Linked DNA regions of Homo sapiens. The protein of the gene in region 2 interacts with the protein of the main gene of each other region in a pairwise test. Each region holds a gene or a part of one and is shown on either strand. Other genes may lie near its edges.

What was found.
Region 1: the proteins of TTBK2 (region 2) and KLHL12 interact in binary tests that used the Homo sapiens proteins (3 or more experiments, as listed by UniProt).

Annotation. Positions count from the first base shown.
Region 1 is NC_000001.11:202,906,507-202,910,325, forward strand, and holds part of KLHL12 (kelch-like protein 12), read right to left. Parts: intron 2,619-3,819; coding exon 2,504-2,618; intron 1-2,503. UniProt on the Homo sapiens protein: Substrate-specific adapter of a BCR (BTB-CUL3-RBX1) E3 ubiquitin ligase complex that acts as a negative regulator of Wnt signaling pathway and ER-Golgi transport.
Region 2 is NC_000015.10:42,917,678-42,922,093, reverse strand, and holds the start of TTBK2 (tau-tubulin kinase 2), read left to right. Parts: upstream 1-1,315; 5' UTR 1,316-1,656; exon of another isoform or gene 1,657-2,236; coding exon of another isoform or gene 2,237-2,335; intron 2,336-4,416.

The DNA.
Region 1 (3,819 bases), on a different chromosome or scaffold from region 2:
TTGGGAGTTTATTGTTTAATGGGTACAGAGTTTCAGTCTTGTTAAGACAAAAAGAGTTACAGAGATTGATTGTATAACAATGTATTTAACATGAGTCAACTGTACATGTAAAAATGGTTAAGATGGTAAATTTTATGCTAAATATATTTTATTTAATTAATTTATTTATTTTTGAGATGGAGTCTCACTCTGTCGCCCAGGCTGGAGTACAATGGTGCAATCTTGGCTCACTGCAACCTCCGCCTCCCGGGTTCAAGCGATTCTCCTGCCTCAGCCTCCAGAGTAGCTGGGATTACAGGTGTGCACCACCACACTCAGCTAATTTTTGTATTTTTAGTAGACATGGGGTTTCACCATGTTGGCCAGGCTGGTCTCGAACTACTGACCTCAAGTGATCTGCCCACCTTGGCCTCCCAAAGTGCTGGGATTACAGGTGTGAGACACCGTGCCCGGCCTGTTACATATATTTTACAAAAAAGAAAAAAAAGACTTCCATCCAGAAGGTATACAAATATTTTCCTATAATTTCTTCTAATATTCTCATAGTTTTTCACCATTCAGTCCTTCAATCTATCTTGTGTTGATATGTATCTGTGTATAAAGCATATGAAACACAGATCACATTTTGTCATCTTGCAGTAGTAGAAAATACCATCTACAATGCCCTATCTAAAAGTTCTCTTTTTAAAAAAATGCAGTATCTTTGAGTGGTAAGATTATGGATGATTTTTATTTATTTTTTGCTTCTCTGTATTTCTACAAGTTCTACATTGAACATGCAGTACTTATGCCATTAAAAAATATAGGAGAGGGAGCCAGGCATGGTGGCTCATGCCTGTAATCCCAGCACTTTGGGAGGCCAAGGTGGGTGGATCAATTGCAGCCAGGAGTTAGAGACCAGCCTGGTCAACATGGAGAAACCCTGTCTCTACCAAAAATACAAAAATTAGCCAGGGATGGTGGCAGTCGCCTGTTGTCCCAGCTACTCGGGAGTCTGAGGCACAAGAATTGCTTGAACCTGGGAGAGGTTGTAGTGAGCCAAGATTGCACCACTGCACTCCAGTCTGGGTGACAGAGCAAGACTCTGTCTTAAAAAAAAAAAAAAAAGGAAAAAAATTATATATATATATATGGGAGGCCTGTAATCCCAGCACTTTGGGAGGCCAAGGCAGGTGAACTGCTTGAGTCCAGGAGTTCAAGACCCAGCCTGGGCAACAAAGGAAGGCTCTGTCTCTACAAAAAAATATAAAAATTAGCCAGGCATGGTGGCACGTGCCTGCGGTCCCAGCTACTTGGGAGGCTGAGGTGGGAAGACTGCTTGAGTCCAGGAGGCTAAGGCTGCAGTGAACCGAGATCACGCCACTGCACTCCACCCTGGGCAACATAGTGAGACCTCATTTCTATTAAAAAAAATAAAATATAGCGGATAAATCACCATTCTACCTAAACCCATCAGTGAGCAGCTTAATTATCAACTAACACCTTAGCACGCATCATGAGTCCTCAGTCAGATAAAAGGAAACAATAAAACAAAATACCACCCCATACATATAGAGTAATTCATAACTTATAAAATGTTTTTATACACTATACACCTAGGCTTTTGGACAGTGAAGCAAAGAGAATAGGAAGTGGAAAGTATGGTGATATCTGAGTATTTAGTGTGTGCCAGCTATAGTGTTAGGTATCTTATATACATTATCTCATTCAATCCTCCCAACACTGAGATAAGACACTAACTCTCATCTTAGTGGTAGACATACAGGCTCAGATAAATTGATACCTTGCCCAACCAGTCATTGCTGGGGCTTGGATTTGAACCTAGGTCTATTTGCTAAGATAATAGCTAATACACATAGTTATTATGTGCCAAGAAGTGTTTTAAGGCTTTACATAAATAACTTTATTTACTCTTCATAACAATGTTACAGGCAGGTGCTACGATGATTCCATTTACAGATGAGGCAACTGAAGCACACAGAGGTTAAGGTTCCTGCCCAAGTTAATAAATCTAGTACGAGGTAAACTGGTACCTGCACCAACAGTAACTGCCAAAACCCATGTACTTTCTACCACACTGGGCTCCTTTTCTTCCTCTCTTCATTCCGGAATGGAAAAACCACATAAGGGGAAGTGAAGAGGTGGGTGGAAGCATATACTACTTACCTGCCATTATGTGGCACTAAAATTATCTCTAATTCACAGAATCTAAATAATATTGACAAAAAATTGTAACATATTATGTAATGCCTGACAATGTATAAAGTGCTTTTATATTTTATCTCATTTAATTTCCAAATAATTATGTGAAGTAGATAGAGAAGACATCCTTGATTTATAGGAAAGAAAGCTTAGAGTGGTAAAGTGACTTGTCTGAGATGATAGAAGAAAAGGTCTGAAACGAGGTGTCTGTACTTCTTATAGAGTATTATTTTCAACTATGTTGTCACCTGCAAGAAGTAGTTGAAAAGCATCCCCTCATTCTGCCGAGATACCAGCTTACCTAGGCGAGCCCTTGTCCTGGGTCCCTGCATCTGACTCCGAAGTTCAGGCCTCAGATGAAACTTCTTTGCTTCATCAACCAGATCCCTGCATTGTAAACTACAGCGGATGAAAGGCTGAAATATAGCAGACAGCAGAGTTAGGCACTGGGGATACCTGTAATACTATAAGAGTACAAAGAGCACATGCAAATAATTAACTTCTGACTACAGAAAACCAGTTTGCAAAGCCCTGTGATTCCAGGAGTATTGCTGGTAGTAACCATGCTCTCGGTTTCCAGAAATGATTTTTAAAATTTACTTGAAAAATAGATAACATACTAGATGGATCAAAAATCAAATGATATAAACAGATATGTTGAGCAGTATTTCCCATCTATCGCAGCGCTTACATTTAACTATTTTTACATAGTTTGGATGCCCTTCCAGGGATTATGCAAACACAAGTACATAATAACTAATAAGAATTTTAAGGGGAAAACCAAAAAGATTCTGTTATTTTCTGGGTGACAGGAAGAATCATATTTTGTCTGAAATATCTCCCCCAAGGTTCACAGTCCTGTTGTAATTACCATTGTCTATTTCTGACAGCTCTGTACTGGACATCTTTCATTTGCCTCCCAACTCACTCTGTACCTTTTTCCACTCTGCTCTCTGGCTCAGAAGACTGGCCTATATGAACTGTGTCAATAGGGCTTCCTATGCCTTCTAGCTTCTGGTTGGGATCAGCCCAACCAAAGGTCAAGGTTTCTCTCAAGGCAGTGACTCTACACGATTCTCTTTCCTTTAAGGTTCTAGTAACCACTCCTCAACCTTGTCCCTTCAGGCTTAGGGGTTGTTAATAGCTTATGTCCTAGATCCAGGTTATTTCACTGTCTTTTGTTGTTTCTCTGAACTTGCGCCTTTGTAAACAGCTTCTTTATTAAAAAAAACTCTTCTAAAATTGTCCTGTTTTGAGTATAGCATCTGTTTCCTGTTGGGACCCTAAAGGACACAGCTCTAATTAAATGGCACCTCTATTAACCTGACCCAAGAAGTTCTTAGTCGAACTGGAAAGGAAAACAAACAATAAATAGTAGTAAACACTTATGTACAAAGACTTGGTTTTAAAAGTTTTCACATAGTAACTTACTCAATGCTAACAAGAACCTATGAGGAACGTACTATTATCATCCCTGTTTTACACATAAGAAAGCTAAGGCACAAATATATTAAGACATATTAAGTTCACAGAGTAAGTGGTGAATTTGGGATTTCAGGCCCGAGTCTGGTTCCAGAGTCTGTGCTCCTAAACACAATGTAAAGAACTAGACACAAG
Region 2 (4,416 bases):
GGCACTTCCTGAGCAAGAAGAAACAGATTCTATAGGAACAGTTCCAAGATTGAATATAGGATTAGTCATTTACCTTTCTATATTCTTAATCAGCTTTAATGACAATGTCACTTGAGTGAAGAAAAGGATTTAAAGTAAAAATGAAGTTCATAATTCATTACATTCTTTCCATTCATGGCAGAACCCTGGGGATCATTGTGATTCTTAAGTAGAAAGGACATTAGATGTGGGGCGTATGAGAGACCTGAGTTTTGGTTTTGCCACTGATTAGTTTATAGCCTTAGGAAAGCTGTTTAGCGTTTTTCATGTGTTTTCTCTACTGTACACTGGTGGGCAAAGATGGGAGAGGTGCTTAATCTTAAGGTTTTCCTTCGCCAAAGCGACTGACACAACACTAAATAGAAACGCATCCTGCACAGCGTCCTTGCTCCGCCCTCCTCGCTTTTCTTTGAAAGTCTTTGAGCACCTCCCGCATACACTTGCTCAGCATCGCATACTGGTGTGCACCGGGGCTGGCCATTGAGTCTTTAGCTGGTGGTGTTTCACAAAGGGAATGAAATCTTGTTCTTGGGTTGTGAAACCGTAAGGACACTCCGGTCTCCAAGTTGACATTCGTTTATGGAAGTGCCCATCTCCTTTCCTCGTCACACCTAAGGCCCTTCCCCAGTCCCCCAAAGATGATTAGCTTCACGTTAGGCGGTTCTGGGGACGGCGCCAATTTGCGGGATGCTGTCAGCGCTGATGCTGAGGAAGAGGATGGATCCTTAAGGCTTGCAGGGCCTCACGATTTGGGCCCTTCATCGCGACTGCCTCAGTGTGTAATTTCGTATCGTGACAAAGCATTTCCGATTTTATTCCGAAAAGCCCAACCATGGGGTCCCAACCATCCCTCTATAACCAATTTAACTGTCACGCTAGGAGAACACCTATGTGCGCAAACTACTTGTCTCGGAAGCCCTACTTCTCTCCTCGGGACAGGCGGGGAGTTGCGGCTATGGCTGGAACTACGAGGCCCAGAATTCCTAGGCGCATGCGCGCTGCCATTGTGATGCTCCTTTCCCGGTAACTCGCCCTCTCAGGCAAACCTGAAGATAGCGGCAATTCTCCGGTGGGGGGCGGAGACGGTTTCTGCCCGACTCTCCGCCCCCTTCGTGATAGGCAATGGGACTAGCCAACCGACGCTGCGAGTTCGGAACGCACTCTCCAATCAGCACCTGTAGCGGAGAGGTGGGCGTGCGCGCTGGCAGGGCAGGTGGGCTAGGCTGTGTCGGGTTACGAGGGGGGAGAATAACGTCGGGTCGGGTCAGCGGGCTCTGCAGTAGTCGCCGCAGCGGCGATGGGAGCGGTGGGGACGAGGCGGCGGCGGCGGCAGGAGGGGGAGCAGGTGCTGGCACAAGAGCAGCGGCTTGGGGGAGCCGGCAGCAGCAGTAACAGCAGCAGCAGCCGCCGCCGCCGCCGCCAGTAAACGCGGACGGTACCCCAGGGGACTACCCAGCCGGCCGGCCCTGGAAGCCGCGCTCGGGTCCCGCCGCAGTCGGCGGTGGGGGATGGGCAGGCAGTGGCGGTCCCGCCTGCCGAGGGTTAACCCCCGCCGGTCCCGGTCCTGAGCTGGACCAGAGCCCTCCTCCAGAAACCCCTGCGTCCGCCACGGCCCAGGTAGGACACACCCCCCGACCCCCCAGGGCGCCGCCCTCCCCCAGTCTCGACCCCCTCCTCCGGCCGCACCCCTCGCCGAGTGACCGAGCCTGCTGAGGAGGGGAGGGGTACCGGGGACTTTCAGTTCGCTGCAAGCCCGGGGCTCGTGCCAGACCCCGTCACTCTCCATCTCGGAGATCGTTCTGGTTCTGCCCGATTTCCCCGAAGGCTGCCGCCTCGTTTTGCCCCAGGCTTTGGGTGTCTTCACTGAACTTGGAGGGTCACGAAGCTTCGTTCTGCGTCTCTCTCTGTGGGTGACCCACATATCACTTGTACCCATGCCACTTCTGGTACCAGCACCGAACACGAAGGATTCCTAGGAAATCTGAGCGCTTATTTCCCACCCCGCCTCCCCAACTATCATGGAAAGGAACATGGGACTACTGAATCTGTTTGCTGTGTTGTAACGACAGTGAAGGCCGCGACTTTCTTGTACTTAGGGTGCTGAAGTAATGATCTGAGGGATTTGCTCGTCATTTGCTGTGGCAGAGATGATGTTGACACCCTGGGATGCTGTGGGAGGGACAAAAGACTCACGTATATGTTCTGTCAAATCGGAGAAGTAAATAATCCATTGGGATGCCAGGATACTTTATTCTACAGCGAAGTTAATTTTGTATCCGTCGAGGCTACAGTAGAGGTAAAAATGACATTGAGTTGTACTTTGCTTTGAATTAAAGTTGATGGGTAGCAGCAATCCTGGTATTAACTCTTCTCTCTCATCGCTTTAGAAATTATTCTTTCTTTGAACATTAAAGAGGACAGTTTTATTATACACTTCTAATAATGTGAAGATGTTTTGTAATTCAGTAGAAATTGAGTTTCTGTGTGTGTAGGAGGGTCATGTTATGAATGGGCACATGTAGACACACACGCAGAGGGAGGATCCACTCAGTGTGTTTTGTTAACAATGTTTGGTTCTGAGCCATTGATAATAGTTGCATTGGTATCTAAACCCTGATTTGCCACAGTATAACACAAAGATGTGTTGGCTGTGTACCTTTGGCTAAATGGAATAGAATAAAGTTCATTTGGGGATAGAAGGGGGAAATGATTTTAACTTATCAAGGGAATTGAATGCTATGTATTGCTTGCTTTATTTCCTTTTTTTTTTTAAATAAAGAAGCAGTAATGATGACAAATATAGCTTAATATGATTAATCTTGAGGCATTTGTCTGAAGTCAAAAAATGTTTCAAATAATGTGTGTGTTATATTGTGATCTATGCAAATTGAAAACATTGAAGGAAATCTTTGATTTAGAAGCTTATGTTTTCCTGTATGATAACATTTTATCAAGACACCGAAGGGGACATATGAAGCATGGTTTTAAAGGAAAGTTTCTCTTAACATTTTTCTTTTATGATAGAATGTTAGGAAATGCTTTCTTCCCTCTTCCAGTTTTAGACACAGAAGAAATTAAAGTCCATAACTTCATTAATTTAATATATAATATCAAGTTGATGCAAATTTGTACATTGGTTAGGGGGCTGAGAATAATATATCTTGCTCATTATCTTGTACTATGGTTAATACATAATTTAGTAAATTCTCTATTGCATTATATATGACTTTAGATTGTTGTATCTTCTTTTGATTTTAAGTGTTGATTATTTTAATACTTCAGGAAATCTTCAAGAGGTTAGACCTCATTTGCTTTAGCAAATTGAACTCAATTATGTGGGGCTTCAAGTATCTTTAAATGTAATACTAGAAGGGAAGTTTGCATAATTTAGACCATTTTCGAGCGTATTTTACTTCTAAAAAGTGCACTAAAAATGTGGCAATGATAAGTTATTGGTTTTTCAAAGTAAATGAATATTACAGATCCGAGTTAGCTGTGATCATGGAATTTAAATTTCACTTTGGTGGGGGGCAGCCACTTTTTTATATGCTTTATAACTTTAAAAAGTAACATATCCAGATGACTGCTTGATTGCAACTCATGAGAGACTCTGAGCCAGAACCACCTACCTAAGACACTTTCAGATTCGAATCCTGAGAAACTGTGTGAGATAATAAATGTTTGCTGCTTTAAAAAAAAAAACCTCATGCCTGTAATCCCAGCACTTTGGGAGGCCAAGGCAGGAGGATCGCTTGAGCCCAGGAGTTTGAGACCAGCCTAAGTAACACAGGGAGATCCTGTCTCTACAAAAAACAAACAAAAATTTAGCCGGGCATGGTGGCTCACACCTGTGGTTCCAGCTACTAGGGAGACTGAGGGGGTGGATCGGAGGTTGAGGCTGCTGTGATCTGTGATCGCTCCACTGCACTCCAGGCTGGGTGACAGAGCAAGACCCCATCTCTTGAAATAAATAAATAAATAAATAAATACAAATCTATGACAAGGGAAAGTGTTTAGGATCATTATTGATCTAGTAAGGACTGTGTTGATCAGTAAAATAAAAAGTCTTTGAGAATTATGGAAAATATAGCTATAGCTTACTTCTTTCCACACTTAAAAAAAAATCCTATAGGAAATATTCTTTTACAAATATATAGCAAACAGTGTTTTCAATTTGAGGGTATGCTACTCAAAATTACTCTAGTCATGTATTCATTTTTTGTTCTTATTGAGGTTTTTGAGAGACACTCAAAATGTAGCTGGAGCTATTTCTGTTTGATTAGTAATATTGCAATATACCTTCAATATTTATGGATTTTTGAAATTAAATACATTTTATTTAGTTTTATTTCCTAGTCTTTTTTTTTTTTGTCATCC